7 linked regions of the Homo sapiens genome follow. The protein of the gene in region 1 interacts with the protein of each later gene in a biochemical or structural test. Each region holds a gene or a part of one and is shown on either strand. Other genes may lie near its edges.

Region 1 (3,500 bases):
GATAAGCTTGTGCAATAGTTACAGAACTTGCCTTAGAATCTAGCATGCCACCTTCATCAACTCTGTTGAAAGAAAGAACCATGAAGTTAAAGACCAGCTGTCCATGCATTTCTCATCCATCTCTAGAAATGATCTAGCTGGCCCCTCTCCTGGTTAACTTTAGTTGCATTCATGCTATATTCATGTTGGTCACTGTCTGTAGACTTTTTCTTTTTAGTATTGCTGACTTCTTAGAATTGGAAAAATATGAACAGCATGTGGTTTCAAATTAATTCATATGATTTGTTGGATACTACATGAAAAGATATGTAGTATCTTTTAGATTTGGACATTTTAATGCATGTGTTCAGCATCTTTGGATGCCCCTGGTTCTAAAGAGCATTTTCATGGGCTTAAAAATGAAAATTTCTCCCTAGATGCTATATGACTTAAATTACATGTAAGCCATATATCATAAGTTGGATTCATATTTTTAAGACATGGTTTTAATATAACTGTAGTTTTGCCAGTAAAATTATAATTTATGTACATGAAATAGTCATTCTACAAATTTACCTTTCTTCTAAATCTTTGCGTTTTAGTGTTTGATCAATTAGATCTTGTCACATATGAAGAAGTAGTAAAACTGCCAGCATTCAAGAGGAAAACACTAGTCTTATTAGGTAAGTTTGATTGTGTAAGTGAGTTGCTTATTCTCACTTTCAAAACATTTTGTGAACATTATTAAGAGTTGTCAGTTTTAACATTCTTTTTTTCTAAATGACATAGGCGCACATGGTGTTGGGAGAAGACACATAAAAAACACTCTCATCACAAAGCACCCAGACCGGTTTGCGTACCCTATTCCACGTAAGCAATGTCTCAATCTCTTTTCATTATATTTTTCCTATCACTTTTTTAACTCTATAATTTATGTATTTTTTTCTGATTACATAAGGTATAACTGTTCATTGTAGGAAATTTGTAAAATCAAAAAAAGAACAAGGAGGAAAATGAGTTAACAGTAATCCCAACCCCTCTTTCCCTATAATAAGTGCTATAAATATTTTGTTGTATACCCTTCTAGGCTTCTCTGTTGTATACCCTTCTAGGCTTGTCTTAGTACAGATATGTGTATAAAGTGTGTGTGTGTGTGTGTGTGTGTGTGTGTGTGTGTGTGTGTTTTAAATAAAATTAGTTTTATCCATTCTGTTTGTAACAATTTTTCTAACAATATGTCATACACATTACCTAGATGAATTATTCTTCAGAAAAATAAGTTTTCATAGTTGTACAGTTTCTGATATGACAATTTTTTTCCCTTAGTTAATATTTAAATTGTTGATTTCTTACCACTTTTTAAACCCAATCAATATGCTAACAGTTGTTTCTGTAAAGATTTTCAAATCTGTAAGATTTTTAATTCTCCTTATTTTCCGTATCTTATTCTTAACCTCTTGCCCTCTTCATTTTCTCAATTGTAAAATGAAGTAATTCAGGATTGCAGAGAGGATTTGAGATCATGTGTATGAAGCACTTAGCAGATGGTGGATAAGTAGAAGCTATCTACCACTATCATTTCATTATTATCATCATTATTCTAAAGTTTAAAATTTTAGGCCAGGCGCGGTGGCTCATGCCTGTAATTCCAGCACTTTGGGAGGCTGAGGTGGGCGAATCACCTGAGGTCGGGAGTTTGAGACCAGCCTGACCAACATGGAGAAACCCCGTCTCTACTAAAAATACAAAATTAGCTAGGCATAGTGGTGCATGCCTGTAATCCCAGCTACTCAGCAGGCTGAAGCAGGAGAATCAGTTGAATCCGGAGGTGGAGGTTGTGGTGAGCCGAGATCGTGCCATTGCACTCCAGCCTGGGCAACAAGAGTGAAACTCCGTCTCAAAAAAAAATAAATAAAATTTTAACCCCAGAAGCTTTCTAGCAGCTCAGGGTTGGAAGAGCTAAAGGAAAATTATTTTTTAAGAGCAACAGGAGAAAATGTGAAGATTGGCTCCATTCTATAGGGCCTTCACATGCCTTCCTGAAGCAATGTCAATACCACTTACAGTTATCTGTACACCTCAGAGAGCCAGGAGGCTTCATGAGAAAACCTTCATCCCAAAACCTTGTCTGATTTACACAAGAAAAGAAATGTATCCAATAGTGTCTCATTTGGCACTACTGGGGTTTTCTAGTAAAACACTTTGAAGTGTTCTTTTAATTCTCCTTATGTCTAGATCATGAGTACAGCAAGCTTAGCTAACATTTAGCTTCTTCTTAACCACGTAACAACTGAACTTCCATGTTATTAAATGGCCAGTTAACTAGTTTGGTTTTAAAACTTACCTTTGATGATGTCAATCATGACTAGTCTTTGAAATATTTGACCCTGTATGTGTATATAACATATATCTAACTACTGAGATGACTGAAGATAGTACAACATCAATATGTTATGTAAGTTCTTGGCTGGGCGCGGTGGCTCACACCTATAATCCCAGCACTTTGGGAGGCCGAGATGGGTGGATCACATGAGACCAGGAGTTTGAGACCAGCCTGGCCAATGTGGTGAAACCCCATCTCTACTAAAAATACAAAAGTTAGCCGGGCATGGTGGCACACACCTGTAGTCCCAGCTATTAGGGTGGCTGAGGCATGAAAATCGCTTGGAACCCGGGAGCTGGAAGTTGCAGTGAGCTGAGATCTTGCTACTGCACTCCAGCCTGGGCAACAGAGTGAGACCCTGTCTCAATAAATAAATAAATAGTAACGCCGGTTCTTCAGCTTTTGATGTGCCTAGAGAAAGGGCTTCTCTTAAAATGTCCACATTTTGATGACCACGAGCACTTTATGTTCTAACAAACAGGCTAGCAGGAAAGGGGGATTCCCCATTAGTTTAGGCTCATGTATACAGAAGAGAGTAGCATAAATTTGTTCTTTCTCAAAGAAAGAAGGAAGCAAAGAAATTGAGAGAGAGAGGGAAAAAAAGGGAAGGAAGGGAGAAAAGAAAGGGGGGTAGGGAGAGAGAATATTAAAACCAGTGTTCCTGGCTCATCTAGAAAAACATTTCCTAAAGTGTGTTTTGCAGGATACTGGTCCTATTAGTATCCACAGAACTAGAGCTTATTGGCATATACTTCAGTTACACTCACTTAGGTGAGGGGTGGGCAAGCCTTTTCTGTAAAGGACCAGATAGTACACATTTGAGGCTTTAAGGCCATACAGTCTATCACAAGCACTTAGCTCTGCTGTTGTCTCATGAAAACAACCATAGGCAATATGTAAACAAAAGCACATGGCTGTGTTCCAGTAAAACTTTGTTTACAAAAACAGACAGTAGGTGGCCAGGTGCAGTGGCTCACACCTGTAATCCCAGCACTTTGGGAGACTGAGGCGGGCAGATCACCTGAGGTCAGGAGTTTGAGACCAGTCTGGCCAACATGGTGAAACCCCGTCTCTGTTGGAAATACAAAAAATAGCTGGGCATGGTGGTACACGCCTATAATCCCAGCTGCTCAGGAGG
Region 2 (3,500 bases), on another chromosome or scaffold:
GGTGATAAAGGCGAGAAAGTGGTGGTACCAGCGTTGGCAGAAGGAAGAGAGAAAAGAAGTGGTAGTTCAAGGAAAGTTTTAGAAGATGGGGAAACTTGAATATATATATAATACGTATTTTATATATATATATAATACGTATTATATATATATAATACGTATTTTATATATATATATAATACGTATTATATATATATAATACGTATTATATATATATAATATGTATTTTATATATATATATATATAAGCAGTAGAGAAGCATGCTAGAAATAAGCAATAGAGAAGATTTTAAAGATGCAAAATAGGGTTATTTGATAACAAGAACGGGGGTAGGGGGCGTTGAAAGAAGACAGAGAGGGTGATAGGACCCAAGATTAATTTTGGAAATAATACTTTCTTTTCAGGTAAGAAGCAGATGTGAATTAGTACAGCAGGAAGAAGGGGAAGGTCACGTATTATTGGCATCTCTCTAATCTGTGGAATAGAAGGCAGAATTATAGTTTTATAGGGTAATTAGTTTTCAGCAGTACTAACATCATGTTAAAGGATTTTAGTAACTAGGTACAAGGAAGAAACAATATATGGACAAATGTATCAGAGATATTGCCTTTATCCACCCAGTGCAAGATTTGGGGCCATGTCTCAGGAAGGAGCAAACGCAAAATTAAGATTCTGACTTACCCAGAATGGAAATTTATTTTCAGAGAGATCAAGGAGCTCAGAGATGAGCACAGAGTTTTTCTTTGTAGGACCAGTCACTGCTCTGTTTCAATCAGTTTTTATTGCACCATCATTTCCCTTGCTGTCCCCACCTCTCTTTGGAAAAGGGGTCAGGTAGGGCCTCTGCACTCTGTGAAGCTGCTGGGATCCAGATACCTTCCTTACCTTAATCTCAGTGGACTGGCGATGAGATACACAGCAGTGGGCAGTCCTGGGACATGCAGGTTGAGCTGAACATTAGTCAGTAATTAATATGTCATTACATTTCTTGTGTGAACTAAGGCACTTTTCAGTTCACCGGCTGAATCTAAAAGAAGCCAGTTCCTGCTACAAAAAAAAAAAAAAGTAAGAGTAAGTAAGCTGAAATCCTACCAGCAGGCTCAGAGTGTTACTTTGCCTGTCCACAAGGTGGCAGAAGCCGATCAGCTTTCCTCTACTCAGAAACTTACTAGACCTTGTGCTTTAAAACAAGAAATCTAAAAAACAAAATAAAAACACATTACTGCTAATAAATCAGCCTCCCAACTTAACTCTCAGCTTATTATTGGAATAAAGATAATAATTAATCTTCAGGGAATGACTTTTGAAGTACTGAGACATTATGAGAGATACATGTTAAGAAATGGAATGATGAGTGGTTTTTCCTGTGATTCCTCCTTCTAGATTTTACCTGATTGGTGGTGGTATCCCCATCATTGTTTGCGGCATAACTGCAGCAGCGAACATTAAGAATTACGGCAGTCGGCCAAACGCACCCTAGTGAGTATTTTATATTCTCTGTGTACTTGACCCAGTTGTTTCTCTTTTAAGTATTTTCTAGGCATTACAGGTGATTGCAATTTCGTAGATAATTTGTTGAAACATGTAGCATCGATCTGGTTTACCATTTTCTTTTCCAGTTGCTGGATGGCATGGGAACCCTCCTTGGGAGCCTTCTATGGGCCAGCCAGCTTCATCACTTTTGTAAACTGCATGTACTTTCTGAGCATATTTATTCAGTTGAAAAGACACCCTGAGCGCAAATATGAGCTTAAGGAGCCCACGGAGGAGCAACAGAGATTGGCAGCCAATGAAAATGGCGAAATAAATCATCAGGATTCAATGTCTTTGTCTCTGATTTCTACATCAGCCTTGGAAAATGAGCACACTTTTCATTCTCAGCTCTTGGGGGCCAGCCTTACTTTGCTCTTATATGTTGCACTGTGGATGTTTGGGGCTTTGGCTGTTTCTTTGTATTACCCTTTGGACTTGGTTTTTAGCTTCGTTTTTGGAGCCACAAGTTTAAGCTTCAGTGCGTTCTTCGTGGTCCACCATTGTGTTAATAGGGAGGATGTTAGACTTGCGTGGATCATGACTTGCTGCCCAGGACGGAGCTCGTATTCAGTGCAAGTCAACGTCCAGCCCCCCAACTCTAATGGGACGAATGGAGAGGCACCCAAATGCCCCAATAGCAGTGCGGAGTCTTCATGCACAAACAAAAGTGCTTCAAGCTTCAAAAATTCCTCCCAGGGCTGCAAATTAACAAACTTGCAGGCGGCTGCAGCTCAGTGCCATGCCAATTCTTTACCTTTGAACTCCACCCCTCAGCTTGATAATAGTCTGACAGAACATTCAATGGACAATGATATTAAAATGCACGTGGCGCCTTTAGAAGTTCAGTTTCGAACAAATGTGCACTCAAGCCGCCACCATAAAAACAGAAGTAAAGGACACCGGGCAAGCCGACTCACAGTCCTGAGAGAATATGCCTACGATGTCCCAACGAGCGTGGAAGGAAGCGTGCAGAACGGCTTACCTAAAAGCCGGCTGGGCAATAACGAAGGACACTCGAGGAGCCGAAGAGCTTATTTAGCCTACAGAGAGAGACAGTACAACCCACCCCAGCAAGACAGCAGCGATGCTTGTAGCACACTTCCCAAAAGTAGCAGAAATTTTGAAAAGCCAGTTTCAACCACTAGTAAAAAAGATGCGTTAAGGAAGCCAGCTGTGGTTGAACTTGAAAATCAGCAAAAATCTTATGGCCTCAACTTGGCCATTCAGAATGGACCAATTAAAAGCAATGGGCAGGAGGGACCCTTGCTCGGTACCGATAGCACTGGCAATGTTAGGACTGGATTATGGAAACACGAAACTACTGTGTAACATTGCTGGGCTTCCTAGGCAGAAATTCATATAAACTGTGATACTCACATTCCTTGAAGCTATGAGCATTTAAAAACTGTTTACAGCCACCATAGGGATTCAAAAGAATTTGGAATAAACTTTGAAGTTTTGGATTTTACTTATTTTTATCCCCAAATTGTTGCTATTTTTTAGGATCTGAAACAAAATCTTTCTAAAACATTGTTTTAGTTGTCAAAGCACCAACAGGACATTTTGGGATGTGAAATGTAATTTCTTGGAATCTGTAATTTGTACTTAATATTTCAGGCTTGTATTTAATATAATAAATAGGTGTTTGTTATTGTGTCGATCTGTTATTTTTATATTTTACAATATAAGCATTTAGTTCTATTTTAATGAAATTAGTGGTTTGGGGTATTTTAATTAGAGTTACACATAAGTCAGTTATATATATATATTGCATGGTTAAGTGTATTGATTTTGGCACATAAATCAAAGTGATTTTTGGGTTGCTGTATTTTATAAGTCTAGTTTTAAATATTACCAGGTTTTAAAAGGATCTCTCAGGATGTTTTTTGAAAATGGAAATGCCTAAAAAACTTCCTACGTTGCCTTACTTTTGCGTTATTCCTTGGATCCTATTAATACTATTTTCA
Region 3 (3,492 bases), on another chromosome or scaffold:
CGAAAAATACAAAAATTAGCCGGGCGTGGTGGCGGGTGCCTGTAATTCCAATTACTCAGGAGGCTGAGGCAGGAAAATTGCTTGAACCCAGGAGACAAAGGTTGCAGTGAGCTAGGATCATGCAACTGCACTCCAGCCTGGGCAAAAGAGTCTCTCACAAAAAAAAAAAAAAGAAAAAAAGAAAAAAAAATTCTGCATGTAAGTGGACCCTAAAGTTCAAACCCATGTGTTCAAGGGACAACTGTAATTTCATCTTTTAATTATTTGCATTTGGCTACTCAAAAAAGAAATTGAAATAAAATACTTAGGCCAGGCACTGTGGCTTCACACCTGAATCCCAGGTAGCACTTTGGGAGGCTGAGATGATGCAGATCATTTGAGGCCAAGAGTGGGAGACCAGCCTGGCCAACAGCCTGAGAACCCCATCTCAGGTACATTGTCATGGGCCTTTGGTGCCAGCTACTCAGGGGAGTGAGGTGGGAAGATCACTTGGACCAATATACATATACACACATATTTTATTGGACAGTGCTGCTCTAGATGAGCAAAGTACAGGCTGTATCACTCATCATGTATGGTCAGCTCCTAAAATAACTGTAGACACACAGGAAGCTTTTGCGTCCACACTGCCTTAGAAGGTCATGAACATTTTTAATAAGATTGATTTAAAAAGGCAGAGCTTAATTGAAAAATGTTGATGATCACGAAATGAAGGATCCATAGTGTCATTTCCTTAGAAGGCTTAGATTTGTCACTGAAACACGGTGAAAAGCCATTTTGCCATAGAATTTCTGTGCTCTGGGAAAATGAAAGGTTTATTAAAGTACATTAAAAATCTTACAATCTGGCTAGGTGAAGTGGATCACACCTGTAACCCCATCACTTTGGGAGCCCTGAGGTGGGAGGATTGCTTGAGGCCAGGAATTCAAGACCAACCTGGGCAACGTAACAAGACCTTGTCTTTATAAAAAATTAAAAACAAGCTAGGTGTGTTGGTGAGCACCTGTGGTCCCAGGTACTCAAGAGGCTGAGGTGGGAGGACTGCTTGAGCCTGGGGGAGCCTGCTGCAATGCACTGCACTCCAGCCTAGGACAGAAAGCAAAAAAAAAGAAAACACCCCATTACTTCATTTTCATGTATAAAAAAAATACCTAATGAGCAAGTTGGCAAGACTTAATTCCAGCTTTTAAAATAAGGCTGTCAATCTTATTCCTGTAGTCTTCCCTGATTGTAATGTGCTCTCATTCTGTGATGTTTTCCAAAGGATTTTTCAAAGGAAAGCCAAACCTTATTACTTTGCTGTAACTGAAGTAAATTAACTTCAAGTTTTGCAGGCCCCCCCCACCCCTTGGCTCCAGATTTATGTTCAATCTAGTAACAAAACATTTTCTAGGCTGGCTGCAGTGGCTCACGCCTATAATCCCGGCACTTTGGGAGGCTGAGGAGGGTGGATCACCTGAGGTCAGGAGTTCAGGACCAGCCTGGCCAACATGGTAAAACCCCACCTCTACTAAAAATACAAAAATTAGCTGGGTGCGGTGGTACGCCTGTAATCCCAGTTACATGGGAGGTGGAGGTGGGAGAATTGCTTGAACCTGGGGGGCAGAGGCTCTGGCAGTGAGCCGAGATTGTGCCACTGCACCCAGTTTAGGCAACAGAGCAAGATCCTGTCTCAAAAAAACAAACAAAAAAAATTTCTAATATTTTAATATTTTATAGTCTATGCTGGAGAAGACTTCAAAGGGATAATGAGCAAAAAGCATGCAAAGAACTTGTTATAAGGCACTTTATTAAAATAAAAGTGCTTACATCCCTTTAATGCATTAATCTATCTCCTGAATAACACATGTAATATTTGACAAATACTGAATACCAAGTCTGTCCCTTATAATAGGAAAACATACTATTTTAGTAAGTTTTCTCCTTCCACCTTTTACATTTTTGCTCACCACGGTATTGACTGTAGTATAGTTAACTGGCCTTAAAAAGGGTGGTGGGGAGGGGATTTCTAGCTAGTGTTTTCTAACAGCAATTGCCAAATGCTACAGAAACTATAAAACAAATTCAAAGAAACATCCCAGGTAACTTAAATTAACACCAGTTTTGAGAAAACCATTTTTATTATCATTACCACCCAGCTTATCTGTGCTGGATTATGTACCAAATGGCCAGATCTTCTAAAGAACATCTACATAACATTTCTTTCATGTTTCAAGAGATGAAAATAACTGTACAAGGTTAAGTACAAAAGTACACAAGACAGCGGACACGAAAAAATCCATGTATGAGATTTTATCCCCACCTGCAGCTTTTATATATTTGAAAAGTAGAATTCATGAACTAAAAAATATTATCCTTCTATAGTCCTGTCAAGTTTAATGGAAGTGGGTTTAACCTGATTACAACACTAACACCAGTATCACTGATCTGATATTTACAAAAATTTGTATTTTTCAATAAATTAAAGTCAATGCAACACCCATGCAAGCTAGAGTGCTAGCTGTTTGGTGAACAAGGACGTGACATCAGAACAAGAAGTCTATAAGTCCCAAACTTTACAAGTGTGATCATTTTCAAACTGCATCCATTCCTCGCATTGAAGATGTGAAACCCAAACCCATTCCTCTTTGTGTGTGGGTTTGTGATCTTGCCATTTCATACTGAGCATCTAAATTTCGAAATACTTCTTCCTGCTGCTTCAGAGTCTTGTAACTTTCTTCATCAACTGAGCTACATCCAGCTTCATCTTCACTCTAAAAATCAGACATAAAACATTACAATGAATTCAGATGGAGATAAATATTCTCTCACTTGACACTATTTTTTATGTATTTTTTTTTTTTGAGATGGAGTCTTGCTCTGTTGTCCCGTCTGGAGTGCAGTGGTGCCATCTCGGCTCACTGCAACCTCTGCCTCCTGGGTTTAAGTAATTCTTATGCCTCAGCCTCCCAAATAGCTGGGATTAGAGGCACATGCCACCACGCCCAGCTAATTTTTGTATTTTCAGTAGAGACGGGGTTTCACCACATTGGTCAGGCTGGTCTCGAACTCCTGACCTCAGGGATCCCCCCTGCCGCCTGCCCCCCGGCCTCCCGAAGTGTTGGGATTACAGGTGTGAACTAGGCTGACACTATTAAATTATACTTTTGGCCGGGTGCAGTGTGGCTCACGCCTGTAATCCCAGCACTTTGGGAGGCTGAGACGGGTGGATCACCTGAGGTCAGGATTTCGAGACTAGCCTGGCCAACATGGTGAAACCCCGTCTATACTAAAAACAAAAAACAAACAAACAAAAATATACTTTTGGGATATGTATTTGATCTCAATAACTTAATTTCCATTCATTATTGAACACCTCCAAAGGACAAGGCAATGTTCTTTCTAGGTCTGGAATATAGCAGGGTGTAACAAAAGTTAACTTCAGTTTAGTAGGTTGGAAAAAACATAATATGTAGAAGATGTCAGGGTATAAATGCCACAGAGGAAAGTAAA
Region 4 (3,500 bases), on another chromosome or scaffold:
TATGGGTACTGCCACAGGGATGAATTTGACATAAGACTCTGGACTATGCAATCTACCATCAGGCACGAAAGATCTATGAAGTTCTCCCAAGGGTTAGTAAAGCACCTGTAAATAGCAGGGCTCGATTTACCTTAGCTGATATCCAATAACCTAAAAAACCTACATCATTGTTGAAATTCTCCGACTGGAAAAGAAACCTAACACACAACTACAGGTTTCAAGGCCGGGCACTGTGGCTCATGCCTGCAATCCCAGCACTCTGGCAGGCCGAGGCAGGCGGATTGTTTGAGCTTGGGAGTTTGAGACCAGCCTGGGCAACTAGTGAAACCCCATCTCTACTAAAAATAAAAACTGCAGGTTTCAAGAAGTTTATCTTCCGTATTTAAAGTCTTCCTTCCACATTTGTAACATAATAAGGACAATTTTTCTAGCATTAATTATTAGTAAACTGTGGATTACCATTTTACTTTTTATCAATTCTGAATTTCCCAAAACATGATTCCTTTATACCCAGATTTATGTCAAGCTCCAACCAGTTCAAATATGCATGGCTGATTTAACATACTATTCTGACACAATAGGACAATTTCTAGAGTATTTTCAGAGTAGGTAGATATTTTTCCATTTTATCACACCCATCTCTTCAGCATGAACTAAAAAGAAGTATTACACAGGATGAAAAGTAAACTTCGGTCCCATTTCTTTCCTATCAATTTGTGTTACAACATTTCTAAGACTTAACTATTACTTGAAATACCCAAGAGAAGTGGATTCAGATTCTCCAGATGTCCCTCTGCAAGCATCTCTCATGATTAAAATGAGCCAGTCCAACTTAATACATCTCCAATAACTAAGTTACTGAGCAACTGGCAAGCATAAGAATGAGAATTAAAATATGAGCCAGTCCAACTTAATACATCTCCAATAACTAAGTAAGTTACTGAGCAATTGGCAAGCATAAGAATGAGAATACTGACCACAAAAAAAATCTTCAAACACTGATTTTCTAGAAAGGCCTGCCTCTCTTTACCTAAAAAGCAGTAATGACCTACCTTGTTTTCGAACATCTTCTACAGCAGCCACAAGCTCCTCCTTGAGAAACTGGCTCTCCTTCGCAATTTTATCCCCCTTCTCCAAGAAATTCTCAGTTGCTTGTTCAACAGATGCAGCCAAAACATGGGCCTTCTTAGAACGACCTCTCTTCTTATTAGAGGGCCCTTTACTATTGGTGTTTACAAGGGTTGTAACCTAAAAGTTTCATTTTTAACATTAAACTGGAGTCAATTAAAATGACAAACTAATATCTTTAAAGACAGCAAGATTAAGTTATTCTTTTAAAAAATCACATGAGATTCCACTGAACATTAACATACAATTCCCCATATTTAAGATATACAGCAATGATGCTATATTTAATTTCCAAAATAATTCAGCTTTCTTAATGTGTACAGAGAATTATTTAACACATATTTTAATTTCTCAAATATGATCATTAGGTTTTTAGTTTGATTTTACAAATTAAAAAATGATTAGAGACAAGTTAGATGTCTCTACTATATGTCACCAAGATGTTCCAGAAAGAGGTTAACAATGAACTTAGCTTTATCTGGAGATCACACTGCCACTGTTTTCAAACTTTGCAAAACATTTTAAGATAATTTGCTTCTGAAGTCTTTTGACAGTTTATTCACACAAATCTCAGCAATTAGTAAAGGTCCCAATAAACGAATGATTGCCCAAAGAAGCCTACAGTGATGACGCTTTATGTCTTAGAACATTACCATCATTAATACACATAATACCAGATTATCTCTAGGTTAAAGATGATGAATATATGTTATAGTGTAAATTTGCCAAACAAGACTCATTTTCTCTCTCTCTCTCTGAATCTCTCACATACAAACAATAGACATACTATTGTAAAACACTAAAAGTACACAGCTAGTTGCTAACAGTTTATGAACTACCCTAACATTGTGACATTTGTAGCATACCAAACCTAAACCCTCAAGTTGAATTACCTGCTAATTAATCCCACACAATGAAAGGTGTGTTAAGCAGAGTGAGAGACCTTAACAATCAAGGATCCAGACTCCACCTTTCTTGGGTTTCCCCTCTGAAGAAAGGTGAAGTATCTGCAAAGCACAAACATTTGCAAAGTTGCACTACATACCATGGACCCGTTACTAGCAATAAGACTGAAGAAAACGACAGCAGCAGCGTTCTCAAGGGTTAACTAAACCCATGCATCAATATTCAAATCATCTAAGAACTGTCACCTAAACTCAAGTACTGGAATTAAGGCTTTGAACTAAATAACCTTGCTCTTATGGTTGTTACCCAGGCCTGTGCTATAGAACCATGTTACAATGTATTTGTGTTTTCAGATTCTTACCTGTGTAACAAGAGGCTCCAACAGTCTCTCAACTGCCAGAGTCCTGATCTCTAGACTTTTAGGATCCCACTTGAAGTTTATGTTGCCTGCATGGACAGCAGTCATTTCTAAATAAGAAACAAAAAGTCAGTCAGGCAAACATCAAACACAAACATGAAATATGTAACAAATCTTCTCCTACTTTGGGACTTTTGCATCAGGAAAGCTATATTCACTATAGATGAAAAAATTCTAACTAGCCTACACATGAAGACCCAGTAAACCTTACAACCTCTTAATATTTAATGATTTCAGGCTTACAAATAGGAGGGGTACTACAAGAGGGCATTCCCAAACACACAGAATGTTTCCCTTTGGGCTTCTCTAGCACCAAGACTTCCTACCTCAGTTCCTACTCACTTTATCTGCCCCACCTTTAGAAACAAGATGAAAAGCTAAAGTGAATGAAAGCTACTTTCTTTTTTTTTTTTTTTTTGAGACAGAGTCTTGCTCTTTCGCCCAGGCTGGAGGGCAGTGGTGGATCTCAGCTCACTGCAAGCTCCGCCTCCTGGGTTCACGCCATTCTCTGGCCTCAGCCTCCCAAGTGGCTGTGACTACAGGGGCCCGCCACCACGCCCGGCTAATTTTTTTGCATTTTTAGTAGAGACGGGGTTTCACCGTGTTAGCCAGGATATGATGGTCTCGATCTCCTGACCTCATGATCCACCTGCCTCGGCCTCCCAAAGTGCTGGGATTATAGGCGTGAGCCACCGCACCCGGCCAAAAGCTACTTTCAAAGACACTGCTTCAAAAACGAATACAGAAGATCCTGATTTTTCCTACTCCACAACATTCATGGTACAGTAGTATCTAAAAGGTATGCTTCACTTCATTTTTTGATGGATTCCTAGAGAAGGACTTGTCTTATTCTATTAAAACATAATGTTTAAATCAGCTGCCCTCTGCACCCACAGCTATTATCACTCATAGCCAGAAGAAATTTCAAATCACACTTAGTCAAATATCACTGTATCAGTGTCAAGAGAAACTTCTGTCAGACAGCGGCTTTAAGAATAGGGAGAAAACATCAACGAAAATAACAGTTAGTCTTTTCTTCTAAAAGTAG
Region 5 (3,064 bases), on another chromosome or scaffold:
CTGAGGGTCGTGGCAAACCTAAGCTGGTTTCTGCAGGTGAAACTCCACCTCCCGAGGGCAGGCAGTGGGCTGCTCCAGCCCTGGCCCACCCTCCTGGGGTGTGGGTGTCTAAGCCCCAGCCAGGACAGAGACCCCTTGTTCATTCCCGGACCTCCATCACGCAACAGCCCGGGCCACCAGCCGCGCTCACAAACCTCAGCCCCTCCGGGATGCGGGGCAGCAGTAAATGTATCTGGCTCTCAGGTGTCGCAGGCCCTGCTCCCTTATCCTGCCCGGAGGGCACTGAGGTCTGGGAGGTGACAAGGAAAACTGCTGGGGGCCCCGGAAGCAGCGAGTCTCAGCCCCACCCCACGCTACGCGGAGCTGCAGAGCCTCTGCCTTCAAAGCAGCTGAGGCCCACGCTTACTCTCTTCCCGAGTGCGCCCCCACCCCTTGGTTCTTCATCTTGGGCCCAACAGCGGGTGGGGGAGCCCCAGCAGAAGACCAGACGAGACCGCAGCACCGGGCACCAACGTTGGTTTTAATGGCATCAACACCCAGGAGGTCACACGTCAGTTCTGGTTGGCAACGTCTAGGGGTGAGGGGCTGTGGCCTCCAGTCGGCCCCACAGCCTTTGAGAACTGGCTGCCCGGTCCCACCCGCTTCCCGCCCCGCCCCACTGAAAAAACACTAAACGATTGCACTGACAGACAGACCCCAGAGCGCCCGGCCTCCCACACACCCACGGGGCTGTCAGAGTCAACCAGGGCTTTGGCGTCACTCGGCGGTGGCCCGGGGCTGCGCCCAGGATAGTGTTTATCAAATGTGACACAGGTTCATTTACAAACTGGGGCTCTGGAAGGTCTACTTCTGTGGCTCTAAGAGACTTGTCTCTCATGGCTTCTCTCGGAGCTACCGGAAGTTGGGCCTGGATAACGCTGTGTAGGTTGGTTGGTTTATTTGTAAGGAATGTGTAAGGCATTTTGGTAAGTTGAACAGTAACTTCTTTTTCCAAAGAGGAAACTCAGACAGAGGTGCCCTCCTTTGAGCTGCTGCCGTCCTCCTGTGAACGAAGGCAGGTGGCGTGAGGGGGGCTGGGCCACGAGCCATGGCAGAACCACCTGCCCTCTACCCTGGGCCTTTAGTCCCTCCCTGGATTGACCCCCTCAAGCCACTCCAGTCCCTCAGAGAACAGGAGCCACAGACCCCTGGGGCTGGGGGACAGGGAGGACTTGGTGGGAGCTGAGGGGAAACCATCATCCTGCAGGGCAGGGGCTGGAGCACTGGCTAAGGGGCCCACACAGGTGCAAAGTGAGGACCTGGGCCAGCAGGGGGATCAGACACTCGCTTCCCAGCAAGGGAACCCCAGAAGGGTGGGTGGTGGGCCGGGTGGGCTGAAGCCCTCGTTAGGAAGTCTCTGTCCCCACTACCTCCGCCCAGCTCTGCCTCCCCTGGGGCTCCCAGCCCAGCGCTCCCAGCAGCTTGACGACTCCGCCCAGCTCTGCCTCTCCCGGTCCTGCCTCCCCGGGGCTCCCGGCAGCTCGACTCCTCCCGCCCTGCTTTGGCGCCAGGCACGCACTGCCTTTTCCAGCTGTTCCTGCAGCTTCTTCACCGTGTCCTTCTCCCTTGCCAGCTGCTCCTGGGTCGTCTTCAGAAGCTCCTGCAGTCTCGTGGCGGCGCGCCCCAGGTCACTTGTTAACTTCTTCTCTTTTTCTAGTCTCTCCTGATGGTCAGAAGGTTGACGGGCATCAGCCCTTGCACCGGCAGGAGGGCCACCCCAGCTATGCCCACAGGACCCTGACGCCAGGGGCTGGAGCCCTCTGGGGACACAAGGAAGGCAACTCCTGGTCACCCGGAGATAGGTGGTGACGACAGGGAGGAAACCGCCCATGCTGACCGTGAGGGCTGGGTCCTGTGCTCTCAGCACCACCAGAACTTCCTGGGGCAGGAGCAGTTTACTCCGCACTGTCCAAGGCAGCACAGGAGACACACCTGACTACTGAGCGCTGGACGTGTGGCTGAGGAACGCACTTCACGTTCTACATGCTTCACATTTCGACAGCCACCAGGACTAATGGCTGCCATGTGACCATGTGACACTGCAGGGCTAGGAGTCCCCACCCCAGCCCCGGGTAGTGACAAGGGGAACCAGTGCCAAGGGCAGGTCCCGGTGGGGTCGGCTCTCCCCTTCCTGGCCCCTTTCCGAGGCCAAGAGTGGCGCCAGCCCCAGAGCAGACCCTCCAGGTGTGACCCCCGCCCCAGCCCCTGCCTGCCTTCAGCTGTGAGGCCTCCTCTGTTTCTGAAGACTCTAGGGGGCCGGCTGTGCGGAGCTTCTCCAATTCTTCTTGTAACCGACATGCCGAGGTCTGAGCCTTGCCGGAGAGGGAAGTGAGGTCTGGGTGAGACGTCTTATAAACGGCTGTGCTGTCAAGACCCTACCGAGCACGCCTGGGGACCAGGGGGCCCCCCCAGCCTGATGGAGCAACAGCTCCATCCTGTAGCTGGAATGAGTGGGCCAGACCCACAAGTTCTGACCCAGCCCCAGGCCCTCAAGGCTCCTCAGGGATGCAGACCACCCACAGGGCTCCCAAGGTGCCTCCAGCCTGTGCTCCACCTGCCCGGGCCCCACCCACTGCTGCCCAGAAGGCCCAGGCCCAGCCCAGGTGCTGCTGGGCACAGCCGAGCGGGGCAGGGCTGACCCACTCATTCCCTGGAGACTCAGGGCCCAGGGGCTGATGGGGGCTGAGAGCCACCAGGCAGGGCCTGACCTCCTCAAACTCGGCCGTGAGCTTCTGCCGCTGTGTCTGCTCATCCTCCAGGATGGCTTCTGTCCACTCCAGCTGCGTCTTCAGCTGTGCAAACACCGCAAACATAACCCGGCAGCCCGGTGAGGAACCCTCCAGGGGCCCAGGGATCCAGCACAGGCACCGCTCTCTAGCTGCTTCTAGCTTCCCCTTTCCCTGCCCCAACGCTCCCCTCGTTGGGGAGAGGGCACCTCAGCCCCTGGTACAGACTTCGGTGTGGCTCAGGAGCAGCTGATGGGGCCTCTGCAACCTCAGGGGCCTTTAACGAGACTCACAGGACA
Region 6 (3,500 bases), on another chromosome or scaffold:
TGGCTTCCCGTTTTCCCCATTCCTTACCAGAAATTAAACACAGATGACATCACCTCTAAAATTCATATTGTCCTTGGATTTTAGATAGAAATTTAAATTATTCATTGTTTCATTCAAAAAGAAAACATTTATGAAAAATATACTTGCATACAATAGAGGCATAAAAATTAAAAGTACCAAATAGGTTAAAGTCAGAGACCCAACAACCTAATGAGAAATTTTCTGAAAGTAATAAATAGGTCAAATTATTAAGAGCATCAATTATAGGGTATAAAGTGGCAATATAATTGTGTAGGGACAAAATTAAGGGCAATGAAAATTAGAAAAGCAATGTAACTTATGGGATTTAAATACGTCTTCAAATTCTGTAACTATATGAAGTCAAATTATGAGACTAGAGAAAAATTTTGTCCTCAGATGTATACATCAGGAAGACATCAAGATTTTTATTTGTTCAACTATACATTTATTATTATATTTAAAAAGTTGGAATAAATAGCTAACTAGAGTAATTCTTAGAAAAGACAAATAGAGATTACAAGTAGAGACTGGGCACGGTGGCTCACACCTGTAATCCCAGCACTTTTGGAGGCTGAGGCAGGCAGATCGCTTGAGGCCAGGGGAGTTCAAAACCAACTTGGCCAACATGGCAAAACCCCATCTCTACTAAAAGTATAAAAAATTAGCCAGGCATGGTGGTGCACGCCTGTAATACCAGCTACTCGGGAGGATGAGGCACGAGAATCACTTGAACCAGGGACGTGGAGGTTGCAGTGAACCAAGATCACACCACTGCATGACAGAACAAGACTGTCTCAAAAAGAAAAAAAAAAAGATTACAATAAGAAATGGTCACTTGATTATTCAGAAATACTTGCATAGAGAGAACCCAATTACTATCTCCCAAGAATGAAAACTAATTTGTAATCAGGCTCAAGTCTGGAGGCTGGAGGGTGGGGTACAGATTTATAAGAGGCTCTTTGGAGGAGAAATAAGGCACAGGTATCTCTGTTAGAAGAGCTCTTCTGTTTTTGTTGTTGTTGTTGTTGTTTGTTTGTTTTTGAAACAGAGTCTTGCTCTGTCACTCAGGCTGGAGTTCAGTGGTACAATTATCAGCCACTGCAGCCTTGAAATCCTGGACTCAAGGGATCCTCCCACCTCAGTCTCCCCAGTAACTAAGAGTACAGGTGCGCATCATTGCATCCAGTTAATTAAAAAATTTTTTTTGTAGACACGGGGTCTTGCCATGTTGCCCAGACTGGTCTTGAACTCCTGGTCTCAAGCAATCCTCCTGCCTCAGCCTCCCAAAGTGATGGAACTACAGGCACGAGCCACCACACCCAGCTAGCTTTTCTCTTTAACACACCTCCTGCTTTTCTTACTTGTTCTCTGGGGTGGCTCCTCAGTGAGTTCTGCCAGCTCAGCAGTTCAGTGAGCAATTCCATCCTGTTTAGTTTAAAATCCTTTTAACTAGGGATGTGGCCTTCAATTGCATATTGACGAGTATGCTTTTAGCCTTAATGCTATGTCAGTGATGCTCCACTGCCCACCCAGTTCCCCTTTACCAATATGATGCCTCCTTCCCTCAGCCACTGTGAATGTTGGCTCCTCCAATGATGTGAATGTCTGTGTCTCCCCAAAATTCATATGTTGAAGTCCTAACCCCCAAGGTGATGGTATTAGGAAGTGCGGACCTTTGGAAGGTGACTAGGTCATGAGGGCTTAGTGATCTTATAAAATAGGCCCTATGGTGCTCATTTGCCCCTTCCACCACGTGAGGACACAGTGAAAAGGTGCCATCCATGAGAAAGTGGGACCTTACCAAATACAAAATCTGCTAGCACCTTGAACTTCTCAGCCTCCAGAACTGTGAGAAGTAAATCCGTGTTGTTTACAAGCCACTCAGTTGATGGTATTTTGTTATAGCAGTCCTAACCGATTAAGACAGCTCCTAACTATACAGAGATGCCTCCTTCTGTGGAGAATTACCCAGGCTGATGAGAGCCACTTGGCCCAGGAAGTAACTTCCACCTTCATTGCCCCATCTCTGCGTCAAGAAGAGACAACTCTGCAGTGCAATTATGCTTCAGCGGCCCATGAAATGCTCCAAGGATTAGACCAAGCCTAGACTGTAACTGAGACCACATCATTGCTTGCTCTTTTCCCTTCCTAATCCTGCTTCTCTCTCTCCATTACAGATTTTTCCTGAAGAACACATCGTCAATAAATCACCTGCACCCAAATCTCCATCTCAGGCGCTACTTCTGGCAAGGCATATCATGAGGCTAGTGAAGCACCTACAAGAAACTTATAACTCAAGGTTGTAAAAATGGCATGGTGACTCTTACAATCATATCACAGTGGGCCTCTCCAACAATTTAAACCTCATGACCTAGGTGAAAGCTGTGAAAGGATCCACATTAATTCTTCAGAGGCAGGGCTAAGACTTTCAAGACTGAAAAGAGACTAGCATAAGGAGACTTAACAGGAACCCAGTCAAGGCCATTCATGGCCATGGGACCACGCATAAATGGAGAACGAGTAAATTTTGCTAAGTCCAAGGACATTGGAGAGATAGAGTCACTATTACTGATATGGTGACTGAGTCAACAACATACTGCCACTATGAAGTAATAAGAAAATAAAAAGTTAAAAAATGTAACAGATAACAGTTGGAGGGTGAATATATTTTAAATCAATCAGATTCTCATTAGAGTATTTTATTTTGTCTTGATCCCCAAACTTCAGATGAATGTGGAGAAACTGAAGCATGTCCAGAGAAAAGTGGCAAGATATCCAAACAGACAGAACACAGATGGGATCAGAGGGAGTGAGAGGCTTAGTTAAAACAAGGTCAGGAGGCTGGGCACGGTGGCTCATGCCTGTAATTCCAGCACTTTGGGAGGCCGAGGCGGGTGGATAACAAGGTCAGGAGTTTGAGAACAGCCTGGCCAATATGGTGAAACCCCATCTCTACTAAAAATACAAAAATTAGCCAGGCGTGGTGGCGGGTGCCTGTAGTCCCAGCTACTCGGGAGGCTGAGGCAGGAGAATCACTTGAACCCAGGAGTTGGAGGTTGTAGTGAGCCAAGATCACACCACTGCACTCTAGCTTGGGCGACAGAGCCAGACTCCATCTCAAAAAAAAAAAAAAAAAAAAAAAAAAAAAAAAGGTCAAAGTGCAGTGTACTCACTGCATTCAAGTATAGATTGTGTTTTATGAGGACTCTGTAAACTAAAGAAAGTGGATTATGAATAAATTAAAGTTGGGAGTATTTCATATGGACATAAGGAAGAATTTTAATATAGTATGTTTACTAGGGTTTCCACAACAAAATACCACAGAATGGGTGGTAAACAACAGAAATCTCTTTTCTCACAATTCTAGAGACTAGAAGTCCAAGATCAATGTGTCAGCAGGTTTGGTTTCTTCTCTCTCCTTGGCTTGCAGATGATGGCCACCTTCTTTTCTTGTTGTTGTTGAGATAGTCTCACTCTGT
Region 7 (3,500 bases), on another chromosome or scaffold:
ATTCATACATGAAATAATACACCAGTTGTCTAAACTCAGTGTTATTAAGAGACAGTGTTAACCTGTTAGTTATCTTAGGGCAAAATGATCTTCTTTCCTCTCCTCTTACCCTGCAGCTAAGGCACAGTCCAACTCCCCAGGTGAGTTCAGTATTACTGAGCTATGTACTACCCTACGGCACATGCTGCCAGGCACGGATGAGAAGAACAGAACTCGCACTTGATGGTGATTGGAGGGAAGGGGTGCTGTTTTAATTATTTCAGCTCTTACCCTCAAATCACTCACCAAATAATATAAGACTAAAGTAAGTACTAAACTAAATATGACAAAATGTGTGGTGCACTCTGCAAATTCTATAAACAAGTAGGGGAAAAGAGAAATAAATGCTTCTAAGGAAAGTTTCACAGAGCCACTGAGTCTGAATGTTGAACTGAGCTATGAATAACAGGTGCCCTTTCATCAAGAAAGAAGGGTACCCCAAGTGGAACAGACCTCAAGATGCTTGGGACAATGAAGACGCTGCCCTGGCCAGAATGCAGGAGTCAATCAGGGAAGAGTCAAATCCAAAGTTGGAGAAGTAGACCCGGGACATACATAGCCTTGAATGCCAGGCTAATGGACTCTGGATCTGAATTTAAGAAACCGAAGTTCCTCAAGCCAGAATGTAGACACACTGGATGAAACACTCCTGGCTATGGTAGCTGTCAAGTTCTGAAATCATTGCTATCCCAGGCAACAACAATTTCTAATTCCTTTATAGCCTCTGCTTGATGAGACTTGAGACTGTCTTTCATTCACTCAGTCAAACATTATCAAGTGCCAACCATGTGTAAGGCAAAGCTCCCTCATCTCCACTGACTACCAACAAAGTCAGAGCCCTATCCAGAGCCTTTTCTCAGTTACCCACAACACCAGGAGAATAAACTTGGTTAGCCAAATTCGATCCATCCCACAGAGCCAGTTCTGCTTACCAGAACTGCCTAGTGACCCACTAGGCACTCACATTCTATATCTCCCACCTCCTCCTCCACAAGGCCTCTTTTCTCCTTCAAACTTACTGCAGAATCCTCCTTTGACATTTTCTCCCTGTAAGGGAAGTGTCTCAAACCAGCCAAGAGGCCAAAAGAAGGCAGAAAGCGGGAAATCAACAGGTAGGTCAAGCCACAGGCCTTAAGTGACTTAGCCAATCTATACCTAGCCTTGGATAAACCACTAGTCTCCAGCCAAATCTTTCTATCACAGAGTGTCTGCTTTGTTGCACCTCTCTGCTCCTTATGAGATGATTCAGGGCCCACAGATCATCCAGTTCCAGGATTCCTTCACTGACAATAGATTTACACAGCCCAAAGAAAAAGCAATTTTCCCTTCTGTCCACTGAGCCTTCCTGCCACTGAAGTCACCCTCCCTTTCCCTTAAATCCAACACCACTGGAGAAGCCACTCCCGGGCATTCCTTCTTTGCCAGCTACAAAGCAAGTTCCAGCCACTGCATTTCTGTAATCATTAAATCAGGCCTCCCAATTAAGGAATCTGCAACTTCTGCTCACCTTGGAAATCACTGAAGGATCTGAGAAGGAAATCACATCCTGTAATCCAGCCATCAGAGAAATCACTGAGCAGATAAATAGGCTGTGCCCAGCTCCTCCTCTCCCTACGGCCCCTCAGACCAACAATGACCAGGAGCAATTAGTACCGTTATGTCCCCATGCATTTCCCAGCTACATCTCAACTGAGATGGTTTCCCCTTGTAATACTAATTGAAAACAATTTTTTTGGCAAAACCCTGAAGAATGGCTTCTGTGGCAAGCTTCTTTATTAAGCCTCCAAAAAGGCAGAATGCATTAAGATATTGTGACACAGGAACTGTGAGCAGGGAGGATGAAGACAAGCAATCCAGCCAAAAGCTATTTGAAAAATCTGTTTGGGAGCCACAATTAGATGATCCAGTGAGTGAAATACAATTAATCTGATCAAATCTGTCACTATTTTGCACATTAGGAGTAAATATTTTAGAACACAGTCCAGCTGAATTAGTTAAGGGTAGGAAATCCTGCCTGGGAGAATCTGTGTTACACCTACTAGTACGCTCAGGGCAGGGTGATCTGGGAGGGCCTAGAAATATCAGCATCTCCCCATTTCTCTTCACCAAGATGCAGTGTTGGGCCCATTAATTGAGAACTACCTGGCAAGTATTCCAAGCAGATACACTGCAGGGGCAGCAGCCTGCAAATCGCTGCCACTTCGAGTGCGCTGCTGGAAGGAAATGAAGACCAATGTGAGGGCAGATGCAGTGTTTTCACCTTGGCACCAGGAATGGGGGCCCCATGAAGGGTTAATCCAAGAAGGAGGGGGTGTGGAGAAGTGGACTGTGCCTTCACAACTTTCCACTCTCCAGAGCCATTTGCCAACTCACTGAGCAAGCAGGGAGGCTTCTTCTTTCATTTGAAGGAAAAGGACAGAATAATGTGTTTTTCTGTTTCCCTGTAAGCCACGGGGACTGGGCTCCCTCTGGGTGTTTTTGAAACACTCTCTAACCCATTAATCACCAGGATTCCAGCTGGAGGCAACTGGAGAGAAAAAATAGCAAATCGCTCCTCCAGAGTAAAGGGTCCAAGGCCAAGTCCACTCACTTTCCAGCCAGAGCACCTGGCAGGCAACATGGTCAAGAGGTGGTACCCAGATCCCATGCCCTCCTGATTCCTTTGCCCAAAGCCAGTTGCACTCCTTCTCCTTTGTCCCCAAAGCCATCTCTTCTCAGTCCTGGGACCAAGGCAAATACCCAGCCCAAGCCTTGGTCAAGGGTCTCCTCCTGCACCCTCAACCACCTGGGGCACACACTGGACCAATGGGGTGGGCTGAAGGCCCTTCTCCTTCATGTCCCACCCTGCATCCCTGACTGTAAACTCAGTCAGAATGGAGTTCAATTTTCAATTTCATAGGGTTACTGAAAACGCTCCCCAAAAGGGAACTCATATCAAGCAATCAGGTGCATCAGAGACACTTGGAAGAAGAGCAAGGAAACCCTCATTGTGTTAAAAATTAAACTGGTGGCCTCCTGAATAAGGACATGTCTAATACTCCAGAAGCCAGAATAAAAGATAAAATTCTCTTTCCACGTCATAAGAGCCTGGAGCTAGGCCCCATGTTCTCTGTTTTACGGACATCTCCCTCCACTTTGAAACCAATGATGAAGGAATCTTCCCAAAGTGTCCTCATCCCCATCACTCTTCACCCTGGCTTTTATTTACAACACCTTCTTTTCCTGCCATCAGGAAAGGGGGACAGGAGAAAAACCAGCTGGGTCAATGTTGCTGAAACTGGTTTCCCAGTGACTCTCCAGGAGATTTCCTTAAAGTCTCAAAGACAGGGCCATGTGAGTATGCTTCTCCATCTTCTTTACACAGGCTCACAGACCTGATAATCAAGGATCTCTCTCTCGTATTGCCTACAAAATGTGGTCAGAAGAGACAGGTCCAGCCTAGGGGCTAAAGAGGCAGTTAT

Evidence for each region.
Region 2: the proteins of CASK (region 1) and ADGRA3 interact in a test that uses a peptide from one of them, tested with the Homo sapiens proteins (one large-scale study listed by IntAct).
Region 3: the proteins of CASK (region 1) and RSRC2 interact in a test that uses a peptide from one of them, tested with the Homo sapiens proteins (one large-scale study listed by IntAct).
Region 4: the proteins of CASK (region 1) and CTNNA1 interact in a test that uses a peptide from one of them, tested with the Homo sapiens proteins (one large-scale study listed by IntAct).
Region 5: the proteins of CASK (region 1) and RRBP1 interact in a test that uses a peptide from one of them, tested with the Homo sapiens proteins (one large-scale study listed by IntAct).
Region 6: the proteins of CASK (region 1) and ZSCAN30 interact in a test that uses a peptide from one of them, tested with the Homo sapiens proteins (one large-scale study listed by IntAct).
Region 7: the proteins of CASK (region 1) and SORCS3 interact in a test that uses a peptide from one of them, tested with the Homo sapiens proteins (one large-scale study listed by IntAct).

The regions. Positions count from the first base shown.
Region 1 is NC_000023.11:41,532,055-41,535,554, reverse strand, and holds part of CASK (peripheral plasma membrane protein CASK), read left to right. Parts: intron 1-581; coding exon 582-662; intron 663-768; coding exon 769-849; intron 850-3,500. UniProt on the Homo sapiens protein: Multidomain scaffolding Mg(2+)-independent protein kinase that catalyzes the phosphotransfer from ATP to proteins such as NRXN1, and plays a role in synaptic transmembrane protein anchoring and ion channel trafficking.
Region 2 is NC_000004.12:22,387,067-22,390,566, reverse strand, and holds the end of ADGRA3 (adhesion G protein-coupled receptor A3 precursor), read left to right. Parts: intron 1-1,383; coding exon 1,384-1,479; intron 1,480-1,619; coding exon 1,620-2,862; 3' UTR 2,863-3,191; downstream 3,192-3,500. UniProt on the Homo sapiens protein: Orphan receptor that may have a role in planar cell polarity pathway.
Region 3 is NC_000012.12:122,502,954-122,506,445, forward strand, and holds the end of RSRC2 (arginine/serine-rich coiled-coil protein 2), read right to left. Parts: intron 2,754-3,492; coding exon 2,574-2,753; 3' UTR 501-2,573; downstream 1-500.
Region 4 is NC_000005.10:138,780,925-138,784,424, reverse strand, and holds part of CTNNA1 (catenin alpha-1), read right to left. Parts: intron 2,503-3,500; 5' UTR 2,501-2,502; coding exon 2,396-2,500; intron 1,249-2,395; coding exon 1,053-1,248; intron 1-1,052. UniProt on the Homo sapiens protein: Associates with the cytoplasmic domain of a variety of cadherins. The association of catenins to cadherins produces a complex which is linked to the actin filament network, and which seems to be of primary importance for cadherins cell-adhesion properties.
Region 5 is NC_000020.11:17,613,179-17,616,242, forward strand, and holds the end of RRBP1 (ribosome-binding protein 1), read right to left. Parts: intron 2,832-3,064; coding exon 2,748-2,831; intron 2,352-2,747; coding exon 2,253-2,351; intron 1,703-2,252; coding exon 1,559-1,702; intron 1,043-1,558; coding exon 1,004-1,042; 3' UTR 501-1,003; downstream 1-500. UniProt on the Homo sapiens protein: Acts as a ribosome receptor and mediates interaction between the ribosome and the endoplasmic reticulum membrane.
Region 6 is NC_000018.10:35,255,730-35,259,229, forward strand, and holds part of ZSCAN30 (zinc finger and SCAN domain-containing protein 30), read right to left. Parts: exon of another isoform or gene 2,210-3,500; coding exon of another isoform or gene 2,199-2,209; intron 1-2,198. UniProt on the Homo sapiens protein: May be involved in transcriptional regulation.
Region 7 is NC_000010.11:104,644,290-104,647,789, reverse strand, and holds part of SORCS3 (VPS10 domain-containing receptor SorCS3 precursor), read right to left. Parts: intron 1-3,500. UniProt on the Homo sapiens protein: Plays an important role in modulating synaptic transmission and plasticity in the hippocampus, probably by affecting the trafficking and localization ofAMPA-type glutamate receptors in the postsynaptic density.